Linked DNA regions of Homo sapiens. The protein of the gene in region 4 purifies or fractionates together with the protein of the main gene of each other region. This does not show direct contact. Each region holds a gene or a part of one and is shown on either strand. Other genes may lie near its edges.

Evidence for each region.
Region 1: the proteins of DPEP2 (region 4) and ITGAV purify together in Homo sapiens (affinity purification with mass spectrometry; 3 studies listed by BioGRID and IntAct, with this or other methods). This does not show direct contact.
Region 2: the proteins of DPEP2 (region 4) and CHID1 purify together in Homo sapiens (affinity purification with mass spectrometry; one large-scale study listed by BioGRID and IntAct). This does not show direct contact.
Region 3: the proteins of DPEP2 (region 4) and ERFE purify together in Homo sapiens (affinity purification with mass spectrometry; one large-scale study listed by BioGRID and IntAct). This does not show direct contact.
Region 5: the proteins of DPEP2 (region 4) and OS9 purify together in Homo sapiens (affinity purification with mass spectrometry; 3 studies listed by BioGRID and IntAct, with this or other methods). This does not show direct contact.
Region 6: the proteins of DPEP2 (region 4) and GFPT2 purify together in Homo sapiens (affinity purification with mass spectrometry, with the first as the bait; one large-scale study listed by BioGRID). This does not show direct contact.
Region 7: the proteins of DPEP2 (region 4) and SIL1 purify together in Homo sapiens (affinity purification with mass spectrometry; one large-scale study listed by BioGRID and IntAct). This does not show direct contact.

The regions. Positions count from the first base shown.
Region 1 is NC_000002.12:186,592,943-186,597,084, reverse strand, and holds part of ITGAV (integrin alpha-V isoform 1 preproprotein), read right to left. Parts: intron 1-4,142.
Region 2 is NC_000011.10:900,709-904,850, forward strand, and holds part of CHID1 (chitinase domain-containing protein 1 isoform a precursor), read right to left. Parts: coding exon of another isoform or gene 4,109-4,142; coding exon 3,998-4,108; intron 3,071-3,997; coding exon of another isoform or gene 2,996-3,070; intron 2,404-2,995; coding exon 2,254-2,403; intron 1,623-2,253; coding exon 1,490-1,622; intron 273-1,489; coding exon 228-272; intron 1-227.
Region 3 is NC_000002.12:238,161,450-238,165,591, forward strand, and holds part of ERFE (erythroferrone precursor), read left to right. Parts: intron 1-144; coding exon 145-267; intron 268-1,286; coding exon 1,287-1,389; intron 1,390-2,287; coding exon 2,288-2,550; intron 2,551-2,625; coding exon 2,626-2,734; intron 2,735-2,820; coding exon 2,821-2,911; intron 2,912-4,142. UniProt on the Homo sapiens protein: Iron-regulatory hormone that acts as an erythroid regulator after hemorrhage: produced by erythroblasts following blood loss and mediates suppression of hepcidin (HAMP) expression in the liver, thereby promoting increased iron absorption and mobilization from stores.
Region 4 is NC_000016.10:67,989,119-67,993,260, forward strand, and holds part of DPEP2 (dipeptidase 2 isoform 1 precursor), read right to left. Parts: exon of another isoform or gene 4,140-4,142; 5' UTR 4,095-4,139; coding exon 3,832-4,094; intron 3,519-3,831; coding exon 3,392-3,518; intron 3,076-3,391; coding exon 2,946-3,075; intron 2,862-2,945; coding exon 2,720-2,861; intron 2,067-2,719; coding exon 1,997-2,066; intron 1,880-1,996; coding exon 1,703-1,879; intron 1,014-1,702; coding exon 929-1,013; intron 281-928; coding exon 205-280; intron 1-204.
Region 5 is NC_000012.12:57,717,904-57,722,471, reverse strand, and holds the end of OS9 (protein OS-9 isoform 1 precursor), read right to left. Parts: coding exon 4,514-4,568; intron 4,327-4,513; coding exon 4,051-4,326; intron 3,480-4,050; coding exon 3,290-3,479; intron 2,374-3,289; coding exon 2,209-2,373; intron 2,067-2,208; coding exon 1,954-2,066; intron 1,689-1,953; coding exon 1,563-1,688; 3' UTR 915-1,562; downstream 1-914. UniProt on the Homo sapiens protein: Lectin component of the HRD1 complex, which functions in endoplasmic reticulum (ER) quality control and ER-associated degradation (ERAD).
Region 6 is NC_000005.10:180,332,300-180,336,441, reverse strand, and holds part of GFPT2 (glutamine--fructose-6-phosphate aminotransferase [isomerizing] 2), read left to right. Parts: intron 1-488; coding exon 489-614; intron 615-4,142. UniProt on the Homo sapiens protein: Controls the flux of glucose into the hexosamine pathway. Most likely involved in regulating the availability of precursors for N- and O-linked glycosylation of proteins.
Region 7 is NC_000005.10:139,020,252-139,024,393, reverse strand, and holds part of SIL1 (nucleotide exchange factor SIL1 precursor), read left to right. Parts: intron 1-3,101; coding exon 3,102-3,223; intron 3,224-4,142.

The DNA.
Region 1 (4,142 bases), on a different chromosome or scaffold from region 4:
AATGATGGTAATCAGGTGTACAAATGGATGTTCATTAAGTTTTCCTAAGCATACCTTCATGTGCAGACTTGCATACTGGTGAAATGCTACAGAAATGGCAGAATAATATAAAAGGAATGTGTCAATATCTACATGCTAAATTTGTGAGGGAAAAAAGCTGATGAAGTTTTTCATCCAAAATGCCATCTCGATATTAAAGTTATCATTAAGATATTTAAGTTTTTTAAAGAGAACAATGAAGAGATAGAGAAAGTAAAATGACCTTAGACATATGTTAAAGTCTTACGAGGAAGCTGTGTAGTGAAAAAGAAATACTTGCATAGAAAACTGGGTACAAGGTGATAAAAGATGCTATATAAAAAAATTAAGGAATAAAAAGCAACACAGGCCAGGCACGGTGGCTCATGCCTGTAATCCTAGCACTTTGGGAGGCCAAGGCAGGAGGATCACTTAAGGTCAGGGGTTCAAAACCAGCCTGGCCAACATGGTGAAACCCCATCTCTACTAAAAATACAAAAGTTAGCCAGAAATTGCTTGAATCCAGGAGGCGAAGGTTGCAGCAAGCCAAGATTGTGCCACTGCACTCTAGCCTGGGCAACAGAGCAAGACTCCATCTCAAAAAAAAAAAAAAAGCAACACATACTACAAAAAACAAAGTTAATAAAACACTCCATAAAAATAATTGTTACTTGAATTTCATCTAAGAATGACTAATGAAAGTGTACAACAGCTTAATTAGGGTAAGAGAACTGACAGACCAGAAAAAAAATGTTTGTGATCTAAGCAGCACTATCTAATGGAAACAGTTTGGAATTAAAATTTACAAACACTGCAAATCAATTGAAGCAGTAACTTTGAATCTCTGTTCCCTTCTATCGAATGGCAATAACAATGCCCACTGTAATTACTTTAAAAAGAAACTTTCTGAAGGTGATAATAAATAAATGCAAACTTAGAAAATCTGAAACACCACGAAAATACAAGATGATGGGATTTAATTATCATCTTCGTCCTGAAAACAATTGATGCCATTAATAAGTTATTCCCTAGAAGAGTAGAAAATGTAAAACTTAAATTCTGTCTTTAAAAGGGCTTTTCTTTCCTCAGTGTTTTCAAAGGGCCATTAATGGTCAAGTGATTAACTCAAATGAAGAAGAAAAAGAGAAAGAAGGGTAGAAAAGCCAGCTTAAACATTTCTTATCAATGGTGGCGAGGTGGGGAGAATACACAGGGTGAGGTAAGGTTGACAAGAGTTTTCACTGATTAGCAGTGTAAATCTGAAGCTGAGTGACTTAATTTCCTATGCCCGCAACTCTCTCCTGATAGACTCCATTTCCCTCCAAAAAGTATGTCCAAGAACATCATCAGAATCCCCATCCTCAACATTTTTTTTTTTAATGACTGGAAACACTGCCATTAAATAACTCTCTGGGACTTCAAAATTAAGGTTTACATCCATGCCAAGAAGTGCTAAAATATAAAGGATTGAGTTTGGGAGAGAGGACAGAAAGATGGATGGAAAGGAAGAAAAGAGATAGAGGAAAGGAAAAAGAGAGGAAGGACAAGAGACAGAAAAAGAAAAAAGAGAGAGCGATACAGAGGGAGAGGTATCAGAGGAGGCAGTGAGAGGGAGACAGACAAGAGGCTCAGAGGAACCAATCAGGAGGATGGCCTTTGGATGCACTCCCTATCCAAACTGTACTTGAAGGGCAGTTGATTCACGGAATGTGACCTTGACAACCAAGGAGGGGCAACCTGCCAAACAATGACAAGTCCATTTTTCAAACCCTCCAAATAAACTAACTTGTTTGTCTGCTTTCAGCACTGACCTTTCTAAGATAAAGCATGTTTAATATATTTAGCTGACTCTGAGTTGACCAATGAGCCTTCACCAAAAGGAACTTCTGAAAAACTATCATACATGTATATAGAAATAAATGTGTATGAAATAGTACTGAATGTTATTTCAAAGCTACAATTCCAGTTTCAGATTTACTTTTCATTTTTTAAAAAATGCTTTTTTGAATCAAAAGAAAAACAAAAATGCCAGTCAACAACTACTGTAAAACAGAAGCAGTAACTACAATTTCCACATATTTTCCCTTGTCTTTCATAATGCTCTATGAAACATCATATGTCCTTAATCAGAAGTAATATAGGATTTGCTTTCTAAATAACAAAATTATAGCCTAGTTTTATGTCCCCTAATATACATGTATATTATTTATGATGAGAAAAATCAGCCAATATAATCAGAGCTACTCTGAAGTTTATAAAAAATGAGCTGGCATCATTTTGTAAAGTGTTGTGAAAAGGGTTAAAATGGTAAGAGTAGAAATGGTACATGAAGTTTTAAAAATACACACAGGTTGGGACAGATTGCAAGTGACCTTAATCCATGTTAAGCGGTTTGGACTTTCTTGCTGGCAATGGAAGCTTTATTATGAAAATTTTTGCAACAGAATACCAGGATGAAAAAGGATGTTACAGAAAGATAAAATGAATAGAAACAGACAAGATGTTCTGCACGTTTAAGAGCCAAATGATGGGCAGAGGGATGGGGGAGGACCTGAGTGCCACTGACTATGCTTGTCATAACTACACTGAAATAAGGAGTAGAAAGCAGAGATGGAATCAAGAAAACCTTAAAAAGGAAGAATTTCTAGGAGCTTCTGCCTGTTGACTAATCACTGACTGATATTAAGGTGGTGAAGTAGGAGAAACACAGAAAAATAGAACATGAGAGGGAGGAATATGAAAGTATTTCCAAGGTGACAGAGAAAATGATGCCAGCATTAATAGAAACAGAGGTGCAACTAACATCTCTTGGTGAAGACTTTTTAGTCAAATTGAGTTAAGACAGGCTAGTCAACGAGAAATGATTCACAGGCCAGGCCACTGGAATATCAAGTCAGAGATCTACTTTTAGATTTAAGATACAGCCAGGGCAAGAGTTTTATTTAAAAGGCTTTCCAGATATTGCAAACATGAAGTTAGGACTGAGAACCATTGAAGGACCTTCTGCTTCTAAGGCATACACATCTACACATTGCCAACTGTAAGATAAGGCTCCATTAGCGTTTAATGGGGGGAAAGGCAAGAATCCAGTGTCATTCATTATAGCATTATTTTAAAATAAAGAAATACATAAAATGAGAACTGTATAACATATATTTGAAGAATGAATTTTAAAATTGTTCAGTTATTTTCTTTAAAAATTCAATATTTGAATTAATAAAAGTGGGATTTGAATTTTACACCCTGTCTTCGGATCCTTCCCTTCCTTACCCTCTACTCACACCAACCTACTCAAATAACTAGACTGCAAACGGTTCTGCCTCCATTTCCTCCTCATCTGTAAGAATGAGTATATCTGCTTCCCCTTACTTCCCCCCGGTGGTGTGGGCTATAGAATGAAATGAGATATAAGTGCTTAGCAAATTATAAAATATGTTTACCAAAATAAGATGTCATCATTATAATTAAACCTAGGATGTAATTTTTAATTTTTCCAATTAGTCTCCACAAGAAAAGTATGACTCTAATTATTAGCCTGCATACAATCTTTAAATTTTATGTAAGTTTTACAACATAGCATAAATAAATGCTTATAGAAAAAAAAACAGAATGCGAATGTTTTTTCATAATTTTGAAAATCACTATATTTGTGAATTTTTACTTCGAACCTGACTCATTTCTGGAGTGATTTTTTGAGGGGCCGCCTTAACATTTTGCTTAGTACTTTGTCCTTCCCTTTAATAAATATTGATTCATTAATTTTCACAACAAAACTATGAACTATGCAGATAATTCAATAATAATTTTCTATAAAGAGAAAAATTAGGCATAAAATAATTCTACAGCTTCCCCAAGGTATGTGGACACCAAAACTGGAAAAAGCAACAGGAGTGGACGTCACAACCACTGCTCCTCACAAATCCTTCTCCCCTCAGAAGAAAGGCGCTCTTGAATTGACAAATACTTTTTCATTATGTGGCTTTTTTTCTTTTAAAAGTTTATGGTAATACCAAATAACAATAAATCCAACTGGTAATATTGGAAATGGCATCCCAAGTACCTTGGATTCCAATGCTTGTTAAATTTAAAGTGCCCTTCTAGAAAATTCAGCAAAATTTTACATA
Region 2 (4,142 bases), on a different chromosome or scaffold from region 4:
TGGCTTTGGAGGGCCACAGCCTGTGTGGGGAGGAGAGCTCAGGACTCCAGCCAGACTAAGGGCTGTGAATGCCAGGCCAGGGCCAGCCTCATCTCTGAGCGGTCAAAGTAACCTGTGCCGCAGCAGCACAGCCGGGTGATCAGGAACACGTGGAGACCCCAGTGCCCACCTGTCCACCCCCGCAGTTTGAGCCATCAGGGCCTCCACTCCTGGCCTGCCGCACTTACCTATGTGCAGGCCCTTGGCATGCTTCCTGACAGCTCGCATCCACCCTGTGGGACATGGAGGGGACAGTCAACACAGGCACGTGCGCCCAACTGGAAGACCCAGCCTACCTGAGGAGGAAAACGTGGCAGCCGCACAATACGCAATGGGAAGGGCAGGGGCGGGCAGGCAGGTGTGAGAACCCACCCCTCCCTGGCCCAGGGCTGGCTCTCCACACCCTCTTCCTGACCCCAACTCTCCACCCTTCTGGCCAAGGCCCCCTTCCTGACCCTGCAGAGCAGCTCTGAGCTTACCCTCCCTGAGCTGGGACAGCTCAGAGCCTGTGGCCGGCCAGGGGAACAGGCAGCTGCATCCTAGGGCCTGGGGACGGTCAGGGTTTCTCCGAGCTGAGGGATGGCCAGACCCGCCAGGCCCTGACACTGGCTGACATTCCATCACCTCCCCACGGTTCTCTCAGTGTCAGGGAAAACCACTCCTGCTCTCTGAACTCCAAAACTGCCTAACACTTCCCCTGCCATTTCTCTCTGTCCGAGCCCAAACGCAAGGCGCAGCCACGTAAACTCGGGCAGACGTCATCAGGTCAGGATGTGCCATCAGGAGGCAGCCTCCGCCTGAACCCCACCTTCCTCCCTGGCATTGAATGAAAATCGCTGAGAGAGGGACAGAGGAGGAGAAGCCAATGGCCCGTGCCGTTTGCTGCCCAGAGGCTGCCTGAGTCATTGTAGAGCCTGTCCTGCACACGCCTGTGTGCAGCCCGGAAGTGCAAGGGAAGGCCACCCTCACAGCCACCTGGACCACACGCAGACCTGGGCGGAACACTCTGAGGCACCAACTTGGCCTTGCAGAGGGTCCCACCGTGGCGACCACCTCAGAAACCCCCTCTACCAGGCCTGCCCTGCTCCACACTCACCTTCCCACTTAGCACACCAGCCCACACCATGGGCCTGCTCTGCCGGCTGGGCCCCAAGGGGTGAGGGCGTGGTTCTCACAGTCACCACACTCAACACTCACACCCACTGTCTCACACTTAGACATGTCCACACCGACAGTCACATTCAACACACTCACAATCTCTTCTCTCCCACATCATCAGTCTCACACTTACACACTCACATTCACACTTAAATCACGCAGAGACACACACACACTCCCATACAGAGACACCCACAGAGACATACCTACTCACACACACACACCCCTGCTCTCGCACTCACACTCTTTTCAGCCTGTGGGGCAAGCACAGTCAAGCAGGAAGGATGAGAACCTTGGTCCACGTCGTGGAGGCCCGTGACCTCAAACATCTCACGGCCACGTCTCTTCAGCTGCAGCCAGACGGGTGAGATCTGTGTGAACTTGCTCCCAAAGACCTTGGTGACATCGTAGCCATGGCTGTTCCACTGGCAAAAGATGGAGACATCAGACGGAGGACAGGTGAGTGAGCACCTGTCTCACCATGGTGCTGTCATTCTGGCGCCTCTGGACGTGCCCAGGGCTGGCCAGCGTAGACAGATACCAGCCCGGACTGACATCAGCTCCTGGCCTGGGGTATCCTTCTCCTACTCTGGACTGCCACTCACAGCCTGGGACCCAGGCCACGACATCCCTTTCACCAAAAGTGACTGGTGCTTGTCTTAAGCCCCACCTGGAGCTAGTGCACACCACTGCTGCAGGCTGGCAGCTGGGAACAGCAAGAGAAGAGGAGGCTGGGTGTGAGAACCCACCCCTCCCTGGCCCAGGGTTGGCTCTGCACATCCACTTCCTGACCCCAGACGACCTGCGAGCCCACCTCTGGATTCAGGGGGAACCCACAGAGATCAGCACAGCAAGCCCCTGGAGAGACCCCCAGGGTCTTACACTCTGACATCTCCAGAATGGCATCTCTCCCACCGTAGCCTCACAGCAGCAGCAGCTCCGGGAGATCAGAACATAGACCCCCATCACTGACTGGCCAGAAGAGGCCATCACGGGGCCAGGGCAGCCCACCTGAGCCTCAGGACCTCCCTCTGCACTGTGAGGGCCCCAACTTACTGGAGTGACATAGCCCAGTACATCCCCAGCAAAGTGTCTGTCCCGGGCCTTTGCCGAGCAGTAGCTGCGATGCTCAAGAACCACACTCTCAGCTTTGAGGTCCGTCACCACCAAACCCCGGTCTTGCACCGGCTTATCTGAAAACTGACTCTGAAATAAAAGGAGTGAGAGAAAAGCCTCAGTCATCTGTCCACAGTGTAGAGCACAGAGCCCCACCCAGCAAGTCCCTTCCATTCAGCCAGCAGCCGAGTCTCTGGATCCACACAGTGCTGCTGACCCGGAGACCCTGTATGTTGAGGATCGAGGCCACAGCAGGCAATTCAATTCAGAAGCACTCTGGCCGTCAACAGACACTGGCCGACGGTACAGGGCCTTTCCCACCCTTGCTCCGGGCTGGAAGGCAGGCAGGCAGACAGACAGTTATGGTGGCTCCCTCCTTGCATGTGAGGGTGGACGGTCTGCACCAGCTCTGGCCACTCGATACCCATCCGGGCACTCCAGGGCCATACGCTTTGCTGGACAAGAACATGCCAGGTGCGCTGGGTGCATTGGCTCACGCCTGTAATCCCAGAACTTTGGGAGGCCGAGGCAGGTGGATCACCTGAGATCAGGAGTTGGAGACCAGCCTGGTCAACATGGTGAAACCCCATCTCTACTAAATATGCAAAAATTAGCCAGGCATGGTGGCGGGCACCTGTAGTCCCAGCTACTCGGGAGGCTGAAGCAGGAGAATCGCTTGAACCTGGGTGGCAGAGGTTGCGGTGAGCCAAGATCGCGCCATTGCGCTCCAGCCTGGGCAACAAGAGCAAAACTTCACCTCAAAAAAAAAAAGAAAAGAACATGCCAGGCACACGCCACCATGCTGGCCAACCACTGCCTGCCACCGCCCCCGCCAACGTGACCCTGCTGGCCAACCACTGCCTGCCACCGCCCCCGCCAATACGACCCTACTGGCCAACCACTGCCTGCCACCACCCCCACCAATGCAACCCTGCTGGTCAACCACTGCCTGCCACCCCCCTGGCCAATGCGAGTCTTTTCCTGCCATGTCACACCTGCCCCTACTCCACCTCTGCTCCTGGAAACCTTCCATCCAGTTATCAACTTGTCTCTTCTGTCCACACTCTGTGGCCCGGCTCAGCCTCCCCTTGACCTCGCCCCAAGCGGCCCCGTGAGAGAGAGATGTCCACTGCATGGTTTATTTGCCCCCATACAGCACAGAGAAAGCATCTGCCAGTCCAGGACTAGGTCACAGTTACAGTCCTGTGGCAGGGTCTGGCCAGCGGCATGGGGACTGCTGGGGCTGAGAGGTGGTTCTATGAGTTTACACCCTTGAAGGTGCAATCCCCAGGGCCATCCCAGGGGAACGTCCCAAAAAGCATGAGGCAAACACAGCTCAAGGCCATGATAAAGACAGCAAGATGAAGATGCAGGTGATATAAACGAGAGGTAGAGCATGGAAACTGGCAACTGGCACATAAAACAAGCCCCACGTGGGGTGAGTGGGGAGGCACCCTGCTTGCCCTCAAAACCTGGCTCCAGAGGCTGCTCACTCAGAGGTGCTGACTGGCCAGAGCCCCAGAGCCACACAGGCCACCCACCGGCTGCGGGCTCATCAGGTGCCTTTGTGAGGAGCCAAGCCCCTCGAGCCTCCTGGCTCACAGGCCCCAGTGGACAGAAAGAAGAGGATGATGGATCAGCCCTCAGCCAGTACAGTCACCTCAAGTCCCCAGGCCACCCTTACCTTCTCCAGCAGCGTCTTTGAGGCGGCTTTTTTGGCATCTGACTTTGACAGGGTAGTGTGAACAGGGCTGCAGGCCAGGGCAAGCCAGAGGAGGTTGAAGAGTGTCCGCATGGTAGGTGTGTCACAGTAGGGTCCAACCTCGGGG
Region 3 (4,142 bases), on a different chromosome or scaffold from region 4:
GAGCTGCCTTTGAGGGCACCACAGGTGACAAGGACCAGGGTCCCAGAGTACAGAAGGCCACACAGTCACCTCCTGCAAAGTGTCCCACCTGCTTGGTAGGAGCCCAGTGAGGCCAACCGCCCTGCTGGGCTGGCTGTGTTCCAGGAGCCCACCGCTGAGCGTGCACACAGCGTCGACCCCCGGGACGCCTGGATGCTCTTCGTCAGGCAGAGTGACAAGGGTGTCAATGGCAAGAAGAGGAGCAGGGGCAAGGCCAAGAAGCTGAAGGTGAGGCCGGCATCCCGTCAGTGCCAGGCCGTGGGGGGTTCCGCCTCCTCGCTCCTCATCCACTCCCACTCCTACATCCTGAACATTTCCAATAGCACACCCCTCACGCCTCGGCCTGGGGACAGAGAACAGAGAGAACCCAGGCAGCCCCAGGGGGAGCCCCGAGTTAGGGGCCTGGTCCCAACCATTTCCCCACACCCCTAAAATGCCAGGCTCTCCCTCTTTTCTCCTCCCTCTGCATCCAGGCCAGGGAGGCTGGGCTAGCCCAGGCTGTGGTGAGAACCTTGTCCACACTGGAGGGGCCTGCAGGAGTGCCTGGCTCCCAGGGACTAGGGGCACAGGGTCCCTCTCACCCTCACTCAGCCTTAGGTCTTGGCCTGGGCAGAAACTTGGTGCTTGGTCCTGGTGCTGCCTCCTGCTTGGAGCCCCCAAAATGGAAAATACGGGGTGTGGGCTTCTCTGTCCCCTGGGGGCCAGTATCACCTGCCTGGGATCTGAACACACGATGGAAGGCCAGCTCGGAGTGCATGAGGCAGGTGCACAGGCCGCGCTGTCCTCGTGGCCTGGCCTTCTACCTCTGCCCAGCCTCCTGGCCCTGCCCTAAGCTTCTCCCCACAGGGGGCTCACTGGCTTCTGGTTCGGGTCCCAACCCAGCCTAGTGGGGACCTGCTGATGGTGGACTCGGGCCCAGTGCAGACCCTGAGATGCAAGTCCCCAAAAGCAGCCTAGAGTCTTCTTCCCTCCACGAGGCCTGGCCGCAGGAGCGGGCTTCAGCCCTCTGCCTCCCCACTCAGAGCAGAGTCCTTCCCTGCCAAAGCCCCGCCCCGAGGGCCCCCACCTCCAGCACAGTCCTTGTACTCACTCCAGGAGAAGCTTTCACTGAGGTAGATCCTTGGCTGGAGGTTGGAGCCCACTGGGGAGCTCTGTTGCCTGCCTCTTAGTGGCAAGAGCTTGCACAGGGGATGCTGTGGCTCCCAGCCTGCTCCTCACATGTCCTCACTGCCAAGGTTCCCTTTCAGTTCGGCTTGCCAGGGCCCCCTGGGCCTCCCGGTCCCCAGGGCCCCCCAGGCCCCATCATCCCACCCGAGGCGCTGCTGAAGGAGTTCCAGCTGCTGCTGAAAGGTAGGGGTGTGCACCGGCTGGGACACACACACCCCGCTGTGAGCAGGGCCTGGGAGGGTGTCCCGAGGAGCTGACAGGGCCAACCTCAACACTTCGGCGGGCACCCAAGGAGGCACCTGCTCTGGGCTGGACTCAAGGACAGTAGAGCTGGCCAGGTCCAGTCTCTGCCCCATCTTGGCCCATGTCTGCCAAGGGTCAGGGCTGGGGATGGCTGGGGGTTGGGAACCATGGCCAGGAGAAGGCTTCACAGAGGAAGGTGGACCTGGCCACTCAGTATGGCGGGTGCTCAGGGACCAGCGCCTATGCCCTGCCTGGAAGTCAGGAGAGCCCAGCGAAAGGCAGAGGCTAGTGTATGGGGCAGCACCAGGTGGAGCTCAGCCTGGCACCCACAGTCACCACTGGCCAGGGCTGGGGCAGCCTGCCCTGGAGGAGGCAGGGCTGAGTGGAGCCGCGGAGTCCACACTGAGGCCTCCTGCAGAGCGGCGGCTCACATTAGTCATTAGAATTGAGCCGTTTTTTCCTTTTAGTTCAATGTCCTGTTCGTTTAAATATAGCACCTTCTGCGCTGAAGAACCTCCTTGTACTTCCAGTAAAGCTGCAATCGCTTATTTTACCCCCAGCGTCTTTGGAAAATGTGGGTGGGGTAGAGGTGAGGCTGGAGGCCAAGGGCGCTGGGGCACTTCTGCCCGAGCTTCCCAAATCTTGAGGGAAACGGGAGCCGCTGCAGGGTCAGGACGCAAAGACTCCGAGGCCCTTCAGGCCGAGGGGACGTCGCCCTCGCCCCACCCCTGCGCCCGGCAGGCCCCTGGTCTCGCTAGCACCTGTCGTTCAGGGCTGGACCCACGCGGCGGGCGGGTGAGGGGTCCCTGGCGCGCGGCCACCGCTCGCTCTGTGCCAGGTGCGGTGCGGCAGCGGGAGCGCGCGGAGCCCGAACCCTGTACGTGTGGCCCCGCCGGGCCGGTCGCTGCGAGCCTCGCCCCGGTCTCGGCCACCGCCGGGGAGGACGACGACGACGTGGTGGGGGACGTGCTGGCACTGCTGGCCGCGCCCCTGGCCCCGGGGCCGCGGGCGCCGCGCGTGGAGGCCGCTTTCCTCTGCCGCCTGCGCCGGGACGCGTTGGTGGAGCGGCGCGCGCTGCACGAGCTTGGCGTCTACTACCTGGTGAGTGCCGGCGCGCGGGAGGGCGGGTGAGTCCGGCCGGGCGGGAGCCGGGGTGACCATCCGTGCCCCTCGCAGCCCGACGCCGAGGGTGCCTTCCGCCGCGGCCCGGGCCTGAACTTGACCAGCGGCCAGTACAGGGCGCCCGTGGCTGGCTTCTACGCTCTCGCCGCCACGCTGCACGTGGGTGAGGCCCGGGGCGTGGGAGGATCGCCCGCTCTGTCGCCCACCCCGCCGCCCGCCCGCTTGACCACGTCCCACCCTCCCCCGCAGCGCTCGGGGAGCCGCCGAGGAGGGGGCCGCCGCGCCCCCGGGACCACCTGCGCCTGCTCATCTGCATCCAGTCCCGGTGCCAGCGCAACGCGTGAGTGTACCCCGGCCCGGACCCCACACCCGCATTCGCTCGGCCTCCACAAGCTGGAGGTGGTTAAACAGGCACTGGACGGGGCTTCCGCCCGTTCACACCCCACCGTGGCCTAGGTGACCCCACACCTTCTTCCAGGTCTCCCGGTCTACTTCTGCCCCTATCAGGCCTTCCCTTCACAGCAACTGGGAGCTGTTAAAAATGACCTTTCCAGCTGGGCGCGGTGGCTCACGCCTGTAATCGCAGCACTTTGGGAGGCCGAGGCGGGCGGATCACGAGGTCAGGAGATCGAGACCATCCTGGCTAACATGGTGAAACCCCGTCTCTACTAAAAATACAAAAAATTACCCGGGCGTGGTGGGTGCCTGTAATCCCAGCTACTTGGGAGGCTGAGGCAGGAGAATGGCGTGAACCCGGGAGGCGGAGCTTGCAGTGAGCAGAGATAGCGCCACTGCACTCCAGCCTGGGCAACAGAGCGAGACTCCGTCTCAAAAAAACAAACAACAACAACAAAAAAAAACCTTTCCAGGCCACTCCCTGCCCAGACCTTCACCTCCTCCCCAGGTCCTAGGAGGCCGGGCTCCTCCTAGCCTCCCAACTCCTTCCCACCTCAGGGACTTTCATCTTGGGGCTCGAAGCACCAGTGTTACTTCAAGAGGCCTCTCCAGACAGCTTTCTGGAGGCCCCCTCCTCAGTCGCCCTCCCACTCCTCACCCGGGAACTTTCTTCCCCATGATCGCATCCCTTGCTCCTGCACCATCTGGCCCACGAGTGCAGTGACTGTGAGCTCCCTGTCTCCCCACACCCAGAAGGGAGCCCAGGTACAGCGGAGATACCCTGCGGGTAGGATAGCTGGAGCAGACTTGAATGAATGGATCAAGTCCAAAACTTCTTAGTCTGCCTTTGAACCCCCAGAGTGTGTTGGCCTGAACTAACTTAGCATCACCTGCCACCACATCCCCACTTCCGGCTGCATCAGCCAGTGTCCTGTTTCCCATCAGAGCCAGGGCTTTGCTGCCTCTTGCTGGGCCCTCGCCTTGCCTTTCCCAATACAGCAAGCATGCCTCTGGCCCTGTGTCCTTCCTCCTCTTGGGGACTCGGTTCAGACACCACCTCCACTGGAAGACCTGGCCAGGGTCAGGCACTTTGCTGGGCATGTGTTGGCTGCTGGCAGGATTGTGTGTCGTAGGTGAAGTTGGTGGGGTCTCATGGGGCAGGCTGACCCTCCCTC
Region 4 (4,142 bases):
GTGCTGGGCAGATGAGCTCTGTCTGGTGGTTTGGCCAAGTATAATGTCCTAGAGTGGGGTCACTGGGATGAAGACAAACAGGAGAGCCCAGAGAACTGATCCCGGGAGTGTGGTCAAGGCCTAAAGGACGTGATGGCTATGGTGACCGTGAAGGCCCCACTGCTGTACAGCTAGCCCAAGACAAGCCACAGGGAAGGCACTCACTTGCCGGCCCCATCATAATCTCCACCAATCCCGATGAACTTGGATCCAATGACAGCCTTGATGTGGTCGAAGTGATCTGGGGAGGGGGAAGGTGGACAGTCAGCTGCGTAGGGCTTCCAGGGCAGGGGTGCCACTGGGGCTGGATGGCACTGAGTCTCCTTCTTGCAGCCTGTGGGCCAGGCAGGCTAATTCCTTTATGGCCTGCCACATAGCTTGGCAACCTGAGAACCCTGAGGTTTGACCTGAATGGATTCAGCTGGTTCTGGCCTGGATTTCAGGTTTGGAGTGGATCCACAGAGCCACTTGTCTGGGCCATTTCCCACCTAGGATTAAACCTGCCTCTAGTCTCTTTGAGAACCTGGTAGGAACTCTTTTCTATGGTTGTGGGAGATGACGGAGGGACAAAGAGTACAACTGACAAAGACCCCAGAGACCTAAGGGGCCTTCCCCTTCTAGTCTCTTGGCCAGAGGCCGAGGAAGGGTGCTTTGGGGATCCCCTGCAGAGGCGCAGATAGTTAGCACTCAGGTTCTATGTGTGGCTTCCTCCCTTATACCCATCAGGACCGCAGCACTGACTCTGTGGCTGCAGCTCCATGTGACCAATGTGCTGTGTACTGTCCATCACTGCATTTTTTTCAGTGAAACCACTGGGACAGTCCTGGGGCCCTCCCAAGTCTTCAGGTGCAAATCAGAACTGTTCAGAGAGCCCGGGAGAGGGAGTTACCTGCCACAGTGGACACATTGGCTGATGGGTTGCACTGTATTACTCCCATGGACAAAGACACCATCACGACGCCACCGTTCTTCTTCTGCAGGGGCGGGCAAGTGGACACTTAGCCTGGCCCCTCAGCAAACTGCATTCCTGCCCTGCCACCCTCTGGATCCCTGGAGAGGGTGTTCAGCTCTGACTTCAGGAGTCAGCAGAAACTTCACCTCTCTGGTTTTGTATGAAGGGAGGAGTCTAGGCCCTGGTCTGGCATAGGTGTCTTGGCACTTGCTTTGAGGAGTAGAGGAATATACATATTTACCATCTAGAACCCCCGACTCCTGGATGTGGACTGTGGGGTTGTGGGGCAAAAGATGTTCAGCCTGAAGTTGGAAGAAGTGGAGGGAGCAGGGCCTCAGGTTTGAGGGCTCCTGTTTTTTGTTTTTGTTTTCCATGGCAGGGTCCTACTCTGTCACCCAGGCTGGAGTGCTGTGGCGTGATCTTGGCTCACTGCAACCTCCGCCTCCCAGGTTCCAGAGATTCTCCTGCCTCAGCCTCCCAAGTAGCTGGGATTACAGGAATATGCCATCACACCCGGCTAATTTTTGTATTTTTAGTAGAGACGGGGTTTCCCCATGTTGGCCAGGCTGGTCTTGAACTCCTGACCTCAAGTGATCAGCCCACCTCAGCCTCCCAAAGTGCTGGGATTACAGGTGTGAGCCACCATGCCTGGCCGAAGGGCTCCTGGTTTGAACCTCTTGCTTTAGGTTCCTGGGCTGGGCAGTTTCTCACCAGAAGCTGCAGGATGTCATCAGGAACATTCCGAGCACTGTTGCACACACCCCGGGCAGCCGAGTGGGAGAAGATCACAGGTGCCTGTGACACTTCCAGGGCCCGCCGTGCCACAGCATCTGAGACATGGGATAAGTCTACCATCATGCCCAGGCGGTTCATTTCTGCCACCACCTTCTGCAGGGACATGTTGGGAGAAGGGTATCAGGGGTGCACATGTGTATACATTTATTTGTAAGAAACAGCTGGGGTGTGCACATTTGTTTGGGGTGGAGTGTGAACCAGGGTCCTCACCTCACCAAAGTCAGTCAGCCCGCTGATGTTGTTGTAGAAGGAGTGGACGCCCTTAGCGGAGCTCTCTGCCCTGCAGGGTGGCCAGGAAGCAGTCTGACTGGTAGCTGTTCCTCGGCCTCAAGAGTCTAGAGGCCCTACCCACCCTCCATCCCTGCACCCCCCTGAAACAAAAACAGGGATCCAAAATGGGCCCTGCAAATGGGCCATGCCTGGCAGCAGGAGGGCCCTGCTGGGTCCAGTCTTTTTTTTCCTTTTCTTTTTTTTTTTTTTTTGGCAATAGAGTCTCGCTCTGTCACCCAGGCAGGAGTGCAGTGGTGCTGTCGTGCCATCTCAGCTCACTGAAACCTGCACCTCCTGGGTTCAAGAGATTCTCATGCCTCAGCCTCCTGAGTATCTGGGATTATAGGCACGCACCACCACACCTGGCTAATTTTTGTGTTTTTCTTCAAGATAGGGTTTCACCATCTTGGCCAGGCTGGTCTCGAACTCCTGGCCTTAAGTTATCTGTCCGCCTCAGCCTCCCAAAGTTTTGGGATTACAGGCATGAGCCACCGCGTCTGGCCAGGGGTCAAGTCGTATTCTGAAAACCAGAATCCCAGCTCCCCTCCCCACTCCAGAGTCAGTGCCACATCCCATGGGTAAAGCTTGTTCTGGGCCCACAGTGACCTCAGGCAGATCTCTGCCCCTGCCTCAGCGGTCCCACACCATCTGCACTAGGCTCACCAGGGTGTGTTGCAGGTGTGGGTGAGCGTCAGGTAGCGCACTCCCAGCATGTAGAAGGTACGTAAGATGGAGAGGCTATTGTCCAGCGAGTGGCCACCCTCTACACCGATGAGGCAGGCCAATTTCTGAGTGTCGTTCAGAGCTGGGGGCAGGTAGGTCAGGTGATTACTTTCCAGGGCTGGAGTAGCTCAATCAAGTTCCTAACGCTTCCCATCAACTTGCCTACCTTTAGCCGAGGTCACAAGCTCCAGCTCAGAATAGGAGGCACACATGCGGCGTATGAGGTCAATCTGCTCCAGGGTGAGGCGCAGGGCATCCCGGTCCTGGGTCTGGCATGGCACATAGGCTGACCAGAACTGGGGGGAAGGCCAGGGTTTGGCTTGGATGGGGGCTGCTTTGGAGGACCCTGGACTGCTCACAGCCTCCACAGCTGACAGAGCACCCAGTGGGCCAGGAGGCCACATGTAATGTACTGCTTCTTCCACAGGGTCTTCCTGGCCACCAAGCTGGCTCACTGTAGCCTCTGCAGCCCCCAGCATCCATATCATGACACTTTTTGGGTCACTATGGTAACTGAGTTCTCATGTGACTAACTTGTGATCTCTGGGGTCCCCACTCTCCCCATCATCCCCCAGCAGCCATGCTGTGGCACCTCGTGTATCCCTGTGGTACCTGGGCGCCCACGAGGCCATCTCTAAGCCTGTCCAGGCTGGTCTGGCCGTAGCTGAAATTGCGCAGGTTAACATCCTGTAGCCCTTTCTGGTAAACCTGCCTTAGGACCAGGGGCAGGTCGTTGTGGCTGGAGGGATGTCAAGCCAGGGTCAGGTGAAGAACAGACAGATGGGCCTCTTAGCCCTCCAGTTCAGGAAGGACACATCTGGGGATCCCCATCCCTCATTGTCACATGACTATACTGAGATCCCCTGAGGCCCGGGCTAGGAGTGCCCACCCAAGAGGGGATGACAGAGGGGAAAGGGTACCCATGCATGACGGGAGAGAGGGCATCCAGGGGTGGTGTGAGGGAGCCTCCTCCACAGCCCTGCATACTCTGGGACCCTCCCTTGCCCAGGAGTGTGCTCAGCTCCCATCGCCCCCTTGCAGCAATTACGCACCCGTCCACGAGCGGGAAGTCCCGCATCAGGGCCCGTGCCTGCTCTTGCAGGCCCTGGGTGCTGGGACTACTGAGTGTGGTCGAGGGAGCGTAGGTGCCCGGCATGGTGTGGGCTCTGGGGGCGCCCAGCGTGGTGAGGGCTCTGGGGGGGCCTGGCGTGGTGTAGGCACAGGTTACAGGCTGGAGCAGCAGCAGCAGGAGCAGCAGACTCAGCAGAGGCCACCGACCAAACGTGCCGGGACCCTCGAGGCCGGAGGGCTGCATGTTGTGCAGGGCCGGGCAGGCAGGCAGGGGTGGCAGTCAGAGAGCCTG
Region 5 (4,568 bases), on a different chromosome or scaffold from region 4:
GTGATCCGCCCGCCTCAGCCTCCCAAAGTACTGGGATTACAGGGGTGAGCCACTGCTCCCGGCCCCTCTATCCCTTTTCTTATCCTGTGAGCCCGGGGGCAGCCTTCAGCAGAAAGGCCGTTCACCTCAGAGACCAGAGCAGAGGACTCTACCTGAGTCCTCTGCACTCAAAATTAGCAGAGCATGGTGGTGTGTGCCTGTAATTCCAGTCACTGGGAGGCTGAGGCAGAATTGCTTGAACCTGGGAGGCAGAAGTTGCAGTGAGCTGAGATCAGGCCACTGCACTCCAGCCTGGGCAACAGAGTGAGACTCTTGTCTCGAAACAAAACAAACAAAATCAGAGTCCTCTGCACTGGGAGGAGGCATGTGGGGGGACCCATGCCTGCACTTGGTAGTGAAGAAGAAAGGGAGACACCAGGCCCATGTACCCTTGGGCATACTAAGAAACTGGCATGTGTGGGCAGCAGCCCTCTCTCTGCGCATGCCCAAAGGTGGAGGTCTTTTTGGAAAATGTTGAAAGGACAGGTGGGTAGGGGTGTGGATGACAAATGGAATCTGGAGCATGATATGGGAGAGACCACAGCAGAAGGAAGATCCCCGCCGGGGGGAGCTCCATGGTGTGCATTTTGGCTTTCAGGGTATAAAGGGGGAAACAATAGGGAAAGACTTGGTGCAAAAGGGAAGGAACAGAAACAGACAGATGAGAAAAGGAAGATGACAGCATTGCAAGTGTTTCTTTCAATCCTTGCCAGGCCAGGCTTTGTTTAGCTACCCTGGTCTCTTCCTGCATACCCCAGCCCCCGTTTATAGTACCTGGGGAATGGGGAGCAAAGAACAGGATCAGAGCATGATCTGAAAAGAACACTGAGCCTTCTCCCTGCTGGAACCCCCACCCCACAAAAAAGGTTGATGGATTGATGGTCCAGTTGTTTATTTAGAAACCTGATTGTTCAAGAACATGGTGGGTGCTTCACACCTTTTTCACTGGGATTGTGCTGGAGGTGATAGGCAGCATTCTACCATTTCCTCAGCAACAGAGGTGAAGGCTCCTCAACTCAGAAGCACAAATTGTAGGGGACAGGGTGGGCAGGGAAAGGGAGAAGGAAATCCCAAGGCAATTCAATAGAAGAGGGTAAAACGACTCCAAACATCACTAAGGGCAGGTGGGGGCCTGCTTGCTCAGTGCCTGCTAAGTGTCCTGCCCTCCTTGCTCTCTCTACCCACCTCCACTCAAAAGATCCTACTGAATCTCCAGGTAGGCAGCAGGGAATATCCTATCATTAGGGGACAATAACAGGAAAAGCCACAGAGGAGAGGAAGAGGATTGAGTGAGAGTTCAGGAGAGCAAATATCACAGGCCCGGTGAGGTCTCAAGGTGGCTGCCAGCAGGGGCAGCAGCATTCACCCAGGGCCCCCACACCCACAGAGTTGCCCGAGAGGTCCACAGCTCAGCTCCACTCTGCTGTTTGGCCCTCAGGGGTTCCAGGGTGGGGAGGTGGGGAGGAGGCAAGCCAGTCCAGGAAGAGTCTGGATTCCGTGAAGGGTCAAGTGTAGTGTTGGTCTCAGAAGTCAAATTCGTCCAGGTCCCCTGTGCCCTCCCCACCTGGAGAGCCCCACACCCGGCGGTAATTGCTCTCCAGCTCTTTCTGCCGCTGGCGTTCCTTCTGGGCCTCTTCAGCTCCCGGCACCTGGTGGGAGAGGGTAGAGGTGGGCTGGAGCTACTGGCCGTTGAGCCCAGGGAAGTCCTGGGCCAGGCAGCTGGGGGAAGGCAGGGAATGAGGACACCCATGTCCTGAGGGGCTCTTCCTGCATGGCAGCACTCTGAGCCACTGGAACCCCAGCCTTGTCTTACAGATCAGGAAATGGAAGCTCAGCAATGGCGTGGCTGGGGCAAGCCCGCACCTCCACTCCAGGAGGGCTGGGGGCCAGGACTCGGGGGTAGAAGCCTCTTACCAAGATATTGAAGAAGATCTCCTTGAGGTTTCTCGTGTCCTCATCAGTCAGCCAACGTGCACCCTCTTCAGTCCCTTCAGCCCATGGGCGGACAATTTTGATCTCAATTTTCCCTGGAAAGGAGCAGTATGCAGTGAGAGGAGAGGATGGTTGGGAGCCTCAGGGCAGGCCCCCTGCCCCACTGGTCCCAGCCCCTCCACTTCCGGCAGCTTGCCCTTCCGACAGCACTGGGTCCAGCCGCCCTCCAGGGCCCACCTGCAGCTGTGAGTCCCTCCCTCTCCAGCAGCTCCTTCACCAGCCCCTCGATTTGTTTCAGCTGTGGGTTTTCCCGTTTCATCTCGAGGACAGTCAGATCCTGATTAGGGCCTCCGAGACGGAGCTTGGTGACCCGGACCCGGACTCTGTGCTCAGGATCCTCCTCTTAGAGGGGGAGACACACAGGGAAACACAAAGCAGAGGCGTGACTCCAGGGTTAGGGGTGTGGGGGTCATCTCCCCCTAAAACATCAGTTGGCTTTGGCAGCTCTTCCATCTCAACATGTATATGAGCCAGGGCTCAAAAAAATGTGTGCCCCGCCCCTCCCAGTTCAGCCTGTAGAGCTCCCTCCACCAATTGCAGCCTTCCATCTTCCCGCCCTACCCAATAATTCTGCCCGTCACCTATAGGAAAACAAATGTTTTCTAAAGCCAAAATCAGGCCACCTGCACCAACAAAGTTCTGTTTGAAGAAGCAGGTTGGAAAAGTGTGGTCTCCTCCTCCATATGTTGGGACTTTAAAGACATTTCAATGTTTATAGAGAGAGTGGGAATGGAAGGTTTGAAACTGGAACATTCCATTTAGAATATCTGATGTCCACACCCATAGGACACTATGAAATGGACACAAGGGGATACAAGAAGAAGAAATAATTTAAAGTCTATCCAAGCTATTGGCTCATGTGCAGCTGGGCTCTCCTATTCATGCCCTGACAGCTGGGGCCTCTCTTGGTGCAAAGTCCTAAAGTGGTTTTCAGCATATAGACTCACAAGCATTCAATTACTAGCTACTGATCATCCATTGTGTGCCAGGCAGAGTGCTAGGCACTGGGTGTACAGGAGCAAACCAGAAAACCAGCAGATATGCTCTAAAAGCTGCTTCCCAGAGGGATGAATAGGAGGTAAACACGCAAAGGGATGATGGTGTTGGGAAGCAGGCGCAAGTGAGGACAGTGTTCCAGAAAGTGGGGAGAGAATGAGCACCCTCAGAAGGGAAGGAACAGGGTCCCCTCTGGGAACAGAACCAGCTGAGGGATGAAAACAACAGACTGGGCTACTCTTTCTTGTCTGACTGCTCTCACCTGTAGGTTGGGGTGATGGGGGAGGCTTTTTGGGGACAACCCTCTTTTTCTTGTGCTTCTTCACCAGCTCTGGACTCTGTTTTTCCTCCAGTCTTTTGATGAGTTTGTTGAGAGTGGATGTGAGAGCCAGCATTGCCCGATCCCGCTCTGACTCCTTCTTCAGCCCATCTGGGTCCAGCTCTTTCTCTGTCTGGAATACCCAAGAGAAGAGAGTGAGTCAAGGGTCTGGGGTGTGGAGGCAGCCAGCGGGCTGGGCTCTGTAGGAGAGTCTGATATTTTGAAATGGAGTTTTGCTTATCACCCAGGCTGGAGTACAGTGGTGCCGTCTCGGCTCACTGCAACCTCCGCCTCCCGGGTTCGAGCGATTCTCTTGCCTCAGCCTTCCAAAGAGCTGGGATTACAGGTACCCACTGCCATGCCTGGCCAATTTGTTTGCATTTTTAGTAGAGAGGGTTTCGCCATGTTGGCCAGGCTGGTCTTGAACTCCTGACCTCAGGTGATCCGCTCACCTCGGCCTCCCAAAGTGCTGGGATTACAGGCGTGAGCCACCGCGCCTGGCCAGAGAGTCTGATATTTAAGTCTTGTCCCTCTCTCTGGTCCCCCTTCCCCAACAGCCCCGATTAATTAGGGAAACAGCTACCACTTCCAAGTGCCCCGTCCTTGCCCTGTGCTGTGCCCTCTGTTTCTTTTAGCCCGTCAGCCTGTCCTGCTCCACGGGACCAGGCGGCTGTGGAAGCAACAGGAGGAAGAGCTGGGCTTGCCTCCTGGATGATGTTTTCCAGTTCCCGCTCCATGCCAGCCTTCACCTCCGAACGGAGCCGGTCTCGGTCTGACGGAAGCAGGATCCCTTCCAGTTCCTTCTCAAATTCTCCCAGTAACTGCCGTTCATCCTCATCTTCATCCTCATCCTCATCCTCATCCTCCTCTTCTTCCATCTCTCTCTGCCGTTCTGGATCACCCCTTTCCTTCTCTGGTTCCCTCTGAGGGACTTCTGCAGCATCATCCACAGGCTGCTCTTGGCCTATATTTGGCTTCCCCTGGGTGGGTAGGGAGTGGGGAGAAAGACAGTTGGGGTTTCAACAGAGACACATGGTCGGGGGCAGACAAACAGTAGCAGGTGTGTGGTACTGGGGGACCCAGGAGTTGAGTCCCAGGTCAGGGTAGTTTTTCAAATGCTCGCAGTTGGGAGGTGGGTTCTACCCATTCCCTAAGCACGGCCTATACCTTTTTTGTTCCACCTTTCAGCTCCTCTATGAATCGAATCAAATCCGCAGGGCTT
Region 6 (4,142 bases), on a different chromosome or scaffold from region 4:
GCGCCGGCCGCTTTCTAGGACCGTATTCCAACAGCGCCGGAGAATGGAGATTCTCCTTTGTCCCAGCTCAGATAAACAGAGGGAGGGCTAAGCCCGTGCTGTAAAACCGGGCTTCGCAGGGTATGGGATGGTTTATTTTAGGTGGTGGCGGCGCATGGATAATTTTTTTAAGTGTGAAGGGTTACATACAGTAGTTATTTTAATTATTCCAGCAAATGATACTGCTTCTCTGTTTATGGTAGGGATATATCATTTTCTTTTTAAAGCAAGTTTATTTCTGTGAAGAAGTGAGCTAAGCTACAGACAAGTAGTAAATAACCTTCAGCACGGGTGGTTTGTGGGCCTGCGCGGACTCCCAGGGTGGGAGCTGGTGGGGAGGTGCCATCGGTGTGGGTGACGTGACTTGGGTAACGACACCAGGTTGCACTCACAGTCCTGGGTCGAGGCTTGTTGTTCAAGTGCGGCAAACTGATTTTCCTTTCATTTAGAACAAGACAGCATGGACTTAAAAGTGGAGTTTGAGACACACTTCGGCATTGCCCACACGCGCTGGGCCACCCACGGGGTCCCCAGTGCTGTCAACAGCCACCCTCAGCGCTCAGACAAAGGCAACGGTATGTGGCATGCTTCCCCGTCCCCATGGTTCCACCTCACCCTGAGCTGTGTCAGGGCCAGTGCCCGCCAAAGCAGGTTCCGCGCCCACCTCTAACTGACTTCTCAGCCTACTTCATCTTCCCAAGAGAATGCGGATGTCCCCTCTCCCAGAGCTCTGCCAGTGGCCTGGGCCTCAGTCAGGAGGCAGGCAGCCTGGTCCTAGGGTGGTGCTGGCCTCCCAGGAGTGCACAGGAAAACGATGGCACTTAACCAGGAGAGCTGCTGGCTCCTTGGAACCCAGCCCATGAGTGGGATGAGGCCGCGTGAGGGACTGAGGGGCCTGGGCACTGTTCCTCCCCAAGTGACGGAAATGCTGCAGAAGGGTGTACCCTTCAGGCAAGGATGGGTTCTGTCCTTATGCAGCTAAACCTGTCTTTTCCCCACAGAGTGGTCCAGGTGAGGGCAGGGGCTGTACTGGTCTTGATTGGTGCCACCAGACACACCGTGGGCCCCAGCGGGAGACCTCAGCAGCCAGGGGCTTAGGGTTTGGAGAAGTAGGGGCCGCAGCCCGAAGCCCAGGGGCTCTTCCCAGGTGGAGAGCCCTCAACTCAGCTTGCTTCATGTTCTTAAAAGTTGAGAACCACTGTGCATAAAAGTCCAGACTTCTGGCATCACTTGAAAAACTGGAGGATCTGGAAACACTGAGCTGACAGCACGTTGGAGCACCACAGATTGGCAGAGGGCCAAGGTTGCTGCACCTGCTGTCCTTGGTGGGTTTCAGGCTCTCCTGTTCGCCCAGTCACCCCCTCAGGCCAGCTCACAGGTCTGTGTCACTTGCATGGGTCGCCAGGACAGTTCTCCACGCGTGATTCTCTTAAATGACACCCTTGCCCCCTCTCATGGGGGAAAGACTGGTAGGTCTGCAGCTCCTGGTGGCAGTTCTCAGGGGTCTGTGGTCAGCCCCAGGGCGCCGGGTCCCCTGCAGTGGGATGCAGTAGGCATGGAGCAGAAGAGAGGATCTAATCCCTGTCTCCTCCCAGGCCTCCAAGGGCAGGCAGGAGTCTAAGACATAAGCTGGGCCTTCCAGGGGGTCCCCCACTCTAGGTGAGGCCTGGTCCAGTCACGAGCCCCTGAAGCCCCCAACCTGGACATGCCAGGGGAGGGTGTACAGCAAAGACAGTGATTTCTGAAGTCAACTGGACCCCCCAACCCAAGACATCCTCTGGCATAGTGTAAGTTCGTGCCAAGCCTAATGTTAGATAGGACCAAATACATCAGAGCAGTTACTGGGAGCTTATTAGCAGGCACTAAGCCTTGACACTTGACAAGTCCCACTGCGGTTAATCCTTGTGGAAGTCAGGCCACAGGAGAGCAGCACCAGCCTGCTTGGTGTCCCCCACCCACTGCTGATCAGTGGTTCTCCGAGGCAGTGTAACTGGGCGGGATGGGCAGGCACCCCCACCACCCACAGAAAGTGCAGTGGTGCTGCTTCTCCCCAGAGCACTCTGCAGGGCCTCACCAGCTCACCCCGCCCAATTTGGAAGGGAAGGCGTCCCCCAGAAAACGGAAGGAGAGCCCCATCCACCCTGCTCAGCAGAGCAGCTTGGTGGTAGCACAGGAGCCAGGGCTACTCATGCATCCTAGTGATCAGGGTCTTGAGGGAGTGAGGTTTTTGCGAGGGCCTCTTCCTTGGGTCTGGCTCATGCCCTGAACCATAGGGCATTTCGTGACTGAGGCACACACCCTATGTCCAGGAGGAGGACAGCAGACCCCATGGTGCTGAGGACCTAGAATGTACATCTGGCCAGAGCCCAGGTCAAGTGCAGAAGCTGGTCCCTGGGGCAGTCGTGCTGGCCGAGAAAACACTGCGCCCAGACCATGTGCCCTGAGATGTTGCCACTTTAGCCACAGCCTCCTGCCCTTCCCAGTGATAAAATGAACCTCATTGGAAAATCCCCCACTTCAGTGTAGATGATGATTCTCATTGTGTCCCCAAAGCAGGGAGGCTCCCAGGAGGCCCACCCACACCCAAACTTGGACACTCCAGCCCTGACTCAGGATGAGTAATTGAAAAGAAAACAACAGGACAATAAGCAAAGATTTATAAAATTTCTTTGACACTCAGCAGTGATAGCTGAAGAGCATGCTTTTAAGGAAGTCTGAACGCCCAGCAACTATACCACACAAGGAAATTACACAAAGATTCTGCAGAGACAACATGGATTCCAGAAAACAAATTAATGATAGGATCATAGACTGAGATGAAAGAAAGTGTAGCAGAATTAAGAGAATAATGTAAAGAAACAATATCACCGGCCAGGCATGGTGGCTCACGCCTGTAATCCCAGCACTTTGGGAGGCCGAGGCGGGCGGACCATGAGGTCGGGAGATCGAGACCATCCTGGCTAACACGGTGAAACCCCATCTCTACTAAAAATACAAAAAATTAGCCAGGCATGGTGGCGGGTGCCTGTGGTCCCAGCTACTCGGGAGGCGGAGGCAGGAGAATGGCGTGAACCTGGGAGGCGGAGCTTGCAGTGAGCCGAGCTCGCGCCACTGCACTCCAGCCTGGGCGACAGAGTGAGACTCCATCTCAGAAAAAAAAAAAGAAAGAAAAAGAAACAATATCACCATAGATATAAAAAAATGGAGAAGGGGATGGACGTGGAGCCAGTTAATATGGATCCAACATATGGGTAACTGGTGTGCACAAGAAGCGATCAGAGCACAGAGCAGTAAAAAATAAATAAATAAATACATAAAAAATAAAGCTGAGCTGTGGTCAGCACATCTGTTGAAACTGGGCTTTTCTTATTTAAGCCCTCCCATTTTTGGGTGTGACCTCACAAAAACAAACACTACAATTTTTTTAAATAGAGGAAATCATGGTGAGAATAAAGAAAAAGAATAATGGAAAAGATTTCAAAAGATGCTGTGGGAGAAATCTTTCCCGAACTGAAGGAAAACTTGAGTTGGATATCCAAAGAAGGGATCAAAAATAGTCAATAGACCAGGCACAGTGGCTCAAGCCTATAATCCCAGCACTTTGGGAGGCCAAGGTGGGTGGATCGCCTGAGGTCAGGAGTTCGAGACCAGCCTGGCTAACATGGTGAAACCCTGTCTCTACTAAAAAAATACAAAAATTAGCCGGGTGTGGTGGCGAGCACCTGCAATTCCAGCTACTTGGGAGGCTGAGGCAGGAGAATCGCTTGAACCCGGGAGGCAGCAGTCGTGGTGAGCCAAGGTCACGCCACTGCACTCCAGCCTGGGCAACAGAGTGAGATTCTGTCTCAAAATAATAATGGTAATAATAAAAACAAATAAGACTTCACAGTGATGCTTTGAAAAAAATAGTCAATATTTATGAAGCGTATCCCACATCTAGACACCTCCTGGTGGAATTATTGAACCTCAAGGGTAATAGGGAATCTTTCTGTCCTCTAGGGGGAGAGGGAAACGGAGCTACTTGCCCAGAAAAATTCTCAGGCTGGCCTTGGATCTTTCCCTCAAGGCACTCATATGCGGGCTATTCATTGAGAAAATGCAGT
Region 7 (4,142 bases), on a different chromosome or scaffold from region 4:
CCTCAAATAGCAGGACTCTGATCCTCTTAGAGAAAAAAAATGAACCTCGGTTCTCTTTCCCCTTTCCAGTCTTACTCTCCAGGGTAAAAACCAAGAACTCCAACAGCTTTTCCATTAGAGATATTTAAAGGATTAAGGATATAAGGGGTTATTTGCCAACTCAGTCCTCCTTTGATGTTGACAGCTTCTATTTTTTCTCATCTTAACATATTTGGATGAATCTTTAGGTATCAGGTCACCATGGGCTCTTGCACATGAAACACCAAAATGACTGGAGAGCTTATCATACCTGGAAGGGTGTGAGTCCACAGGAGGCTTGGGCTAGCATTGCCCCAACAAAGTTCTTTGTTTTCCCTTGTAGGCTCTTTGTCACTTGGCAGTGTCTTCCCTAAGGTGACATCCCCATTCTGCTTTCACAGGCCACCTCACCAGACCCATCCTGAGGTCATCCCAAAATCAGTCCCTGGCAGAAGCCAAATTTGTCTGTTGGCAGAGAAATGTTCTGGATCATTGGTGTTTTGACTGGAAGGGCTGGTGCATCAGGCTGCCATGCAGCAATGTTAAGCTGTGATTTCACTGGGGGATTAAGTAAGACACAACTCGGCCCGAGTCCCAGTTGTGATGGGGGCTTGGGGTGATGTAGTACTAGTTTTAAGGAAGATGGCACTTTCCTAGCCAGGAACTTCCCCAGTCCTTTCTCATTCCAGACTCACTGAATGGTGGTTTGAGGAGCTGTAGGCTCCAAGGACCCAAACCAGGTCTGCCAGGCTTCCTCACAGCCATATTTGAATTATTAAACAGGATATGTGAAAAGCAAAACCTTGTGTGTGGAAACAGATGGTGAGTTATTTATGAGGAGCGGCCTCCGTCCGCCCCATCTACCTCGGGCAGTACATTTGCCTTCTCCCACGTGTCTCCTCAGCTGTGTGCCACCATTTTTCCCCTTCGCTGTTTCCCATTCTCTCATTGTCTTATCAGTGCCCTGCTTCTTTCCTTTCCTCCAGGGTGTTGGCATAGTTCCCTCCTGCACTCCCTCCTCCTCTTCCTCTCTGCCTGTCCCACCCCACCCCGAAGGCAGCCTGAGAACAGTTTTGGCCCCAGACCGAGATGGGGAGCTGTGGACCTGGGCTATGGTCATGGTTTCTCCTGTATGTCACCAGGGGGGGGCCCAGCTTTTGATGTGCACTGGGCAGAATGAATCGTTTCTTCCTCACTGTTAGTGAAGTAAACCATGAGAAAACATCCCAAAAAGGCTGAAGTGCTTATATAAATGTCTGCATTTCTATCATGCTGAATTATCATTGTAGTAATAGTAGATAAACTGACTCTAGAACAGAAGGTCCATGATTCTGGGCTGTGTTGCTTTGGAGCTGACCGAGTGGCAGCTGCTCTGCTAGGAACTCATACCAGCTTTATAAGTGGCCATTCCAGGCGTGGTATGACAGGATTCTGAGCCATAGTTTTGTATCCAGAAAACCCAGAGGAAGGACAACCAAAGAATAGGTAGTGAATTCTTACATTGTAAAATTAGAGCATGTAGGGAAGGAAGGAAGGTGCTTATGTCAGCAAAGCACCCAACCCTGAGTCTCCCTAGTTAGCTGGGCTGTGGCTCAACCAGTTATTCCTCTTCATAAGAACAGTTTGGGGCAGAAAAATGTCCATGGCCTGGGGCCACATGGCAGAGCAGACTTCATGCTTACTTCACAACCTGGTTTAGCCATTACTTCATGTCTGCGGTACCAGAGGCCCATTCATTTTGTTGGCACAGATACCCCAGATTGCCTTTTTATTCACACTGGAGCTTTATTTCAGGAACATTCTTTTCTGATCAAATTCATACTCATTAATGCAACAGTTATTCATTGAACACCTAACCATATGCTCAGCACCATCCTAGTCCCTGGAGCTACAAGCGTGGACAGACAGACAAAACCCCTGCTGTCATGGAGATTCCATCCAAATGTGTATGAATATGATTTTTCAAGTGGCAACAACAGGCTAGGCCACCACAAAACACTAGCACAGTCAAATACCAATCCTCACACTTGATTTCTCTGTCAGAGTCCTCTCCTAGTTCAGAGAGGCAAGGATGCAGTTGGGAAGGGGCCCTGTGGAATCTGGAGGAGAAAGATGGGTAGCAGCCACAGTTGTTGGGCTTCAGCTTCCTGAGTTTTCCTCATGATTGATAGCGTGGGATTAGCATATGGGCAAGATGCAGCCTTTGTGGCAACAAAGATATATTCGAGGGAGACTGTAGCGGGTACATGTAGAAAACAGGATCCAGTGACCTTTCTGAGGAAAGCGAGTTGTCTTGTTCCAGGGTACTAATAAACTGTGGGTAATGAGATCCGCTATAGAGTAAAAGAGAGAATCCGGACTTGGGGATTTGGAGCTTAAATGATAGCCTAGACCAATGCTGTTGAATAGAACTTTATGTAATGATAGAAATGTTCTGCACTGTCTGATACATAGCCACTAGCCAGTAGCACAGGCTTAGACAGAAACCTTTGGGAGAGCGATTTTCTTGCATATTTTATCATGAATGTCTTCAGATGCAGTCAACCTGAGATGCAAGAGAAAGGTACTATTGTTATTCCCCCCTCCCCAGCACTCTTACGGCAACCCCCCTCCCAATAACAGGGCTCCTTTTATAGTCCCTAGCTTCTAATTTAAAATCAGCTTTAAAAATCTGCCTCCACTGTCCCCATTGGGATTGGACATCAGCAGGAAGCATGGCACCATTTAGTGGTGCTGATGACGCCAGATTCTTTGTGTTAACAGCTTGTACATTAGGAGCAAGCTTTGTGACTCATTATGATATTAGAATTTTCCAGGACATGTTTGGCATAAGCAATAGCTAGGTGTCATTTCTGCTGATTCCCACGCAGGTGCTCATCAATCGTGTTAGATGAATTAGGAGTTCTCAAATTTAAGAGTATTAAAAAATTGGTTTTTACAAACCTTTTCTTAGTCAAAAAGGCCATTATTGATTTTTCCATGGCTTTTTAATTTGTTTTTGGGTAGTCACCAAAAGAAAGGCTCTAAGAACAGCTTTCCTGTCCCTGATGGCTATGCTGTACTAAGCAGTGGCTCTGTTGCAGATGGACAATGCGCAGGACCTGCTTTCCTTTGGTGGTCTTCAAGTGGTGATCAATGGGCTGAACAGCACAGAGCCCCTCGTGAAGGAGTATGCTGCGTTTGTGCTGGGCGCTGCCTTTTCCAGGTGAGCAGTATAATGGACGTCCCAATGGCCAGAATTGCTTGGCCTGATCTGCTTGGAAGAAGGGTACACTTGAATGTGCCTGTTGCTACTGACATTTCAGTGTCATCTCAATGAAACTAGAGTAAAATTTGATTCTGCCCTTATTCCAAGTAGATAGGAATTTTTACCCATGTTGTCACCATCTGTGACTCTCTGTTCCCCCATCTTATGTGTATGGACATTTAATAACACATCTTAGGTCACATTCTCTGTTTTATTCAAAGCTTGTAAAAAGTTAGACCAACTATAAATAGTAGAGAGGGAGGGGAATAAACAAGAGTAGGTCTTTTGGCAGTAAAGCTACATCTAGTGACGAATAAATGATGAGCCTGACCAAGGGGGTGCTTTCAGGGAGGAATGTGTCTTGCCCTAGTTGTCTGGAACCAATGTACATGCCGTCAGATTATCGCCCTCTCTAGGTTGGAAATTGTTGAGAATTTCAGTTAGTCTGGCTTGTGATGGAAGACTGATAAGGCAAGAGGAGTGGGGAGGTAGCATCTCGAAAGAGTAGATGCCAAAAGATATGTAGGCACCACATCATTCTACACCACCTGCAAAGGTCAAGATATCTGCATGCTGCAATTGGTCCATTGGAGCTATTGTTCCTCCCATTTTTGAAAATCTGCTCTTAGGACCATTTGTGCCTTTAAAACAGGAACAAATATTCTGATTCTTGCTGCAAGGGCATGGGTGGAGGCTATTAGATGCTTAGATGCAGGTCACGATGTTACAGGAGAAAAGCTATTCTGAACATATTTACCATTATAGGCTTTGTTTCGAGAAGATTTCCTTTGTGCTTTATCTGTGCTTGTTTTTTAAATCAGAATCTCAGTCTGATGCTCTCTCACTCTGAAAGGCATTCAGCATATTTTCTTAGTAA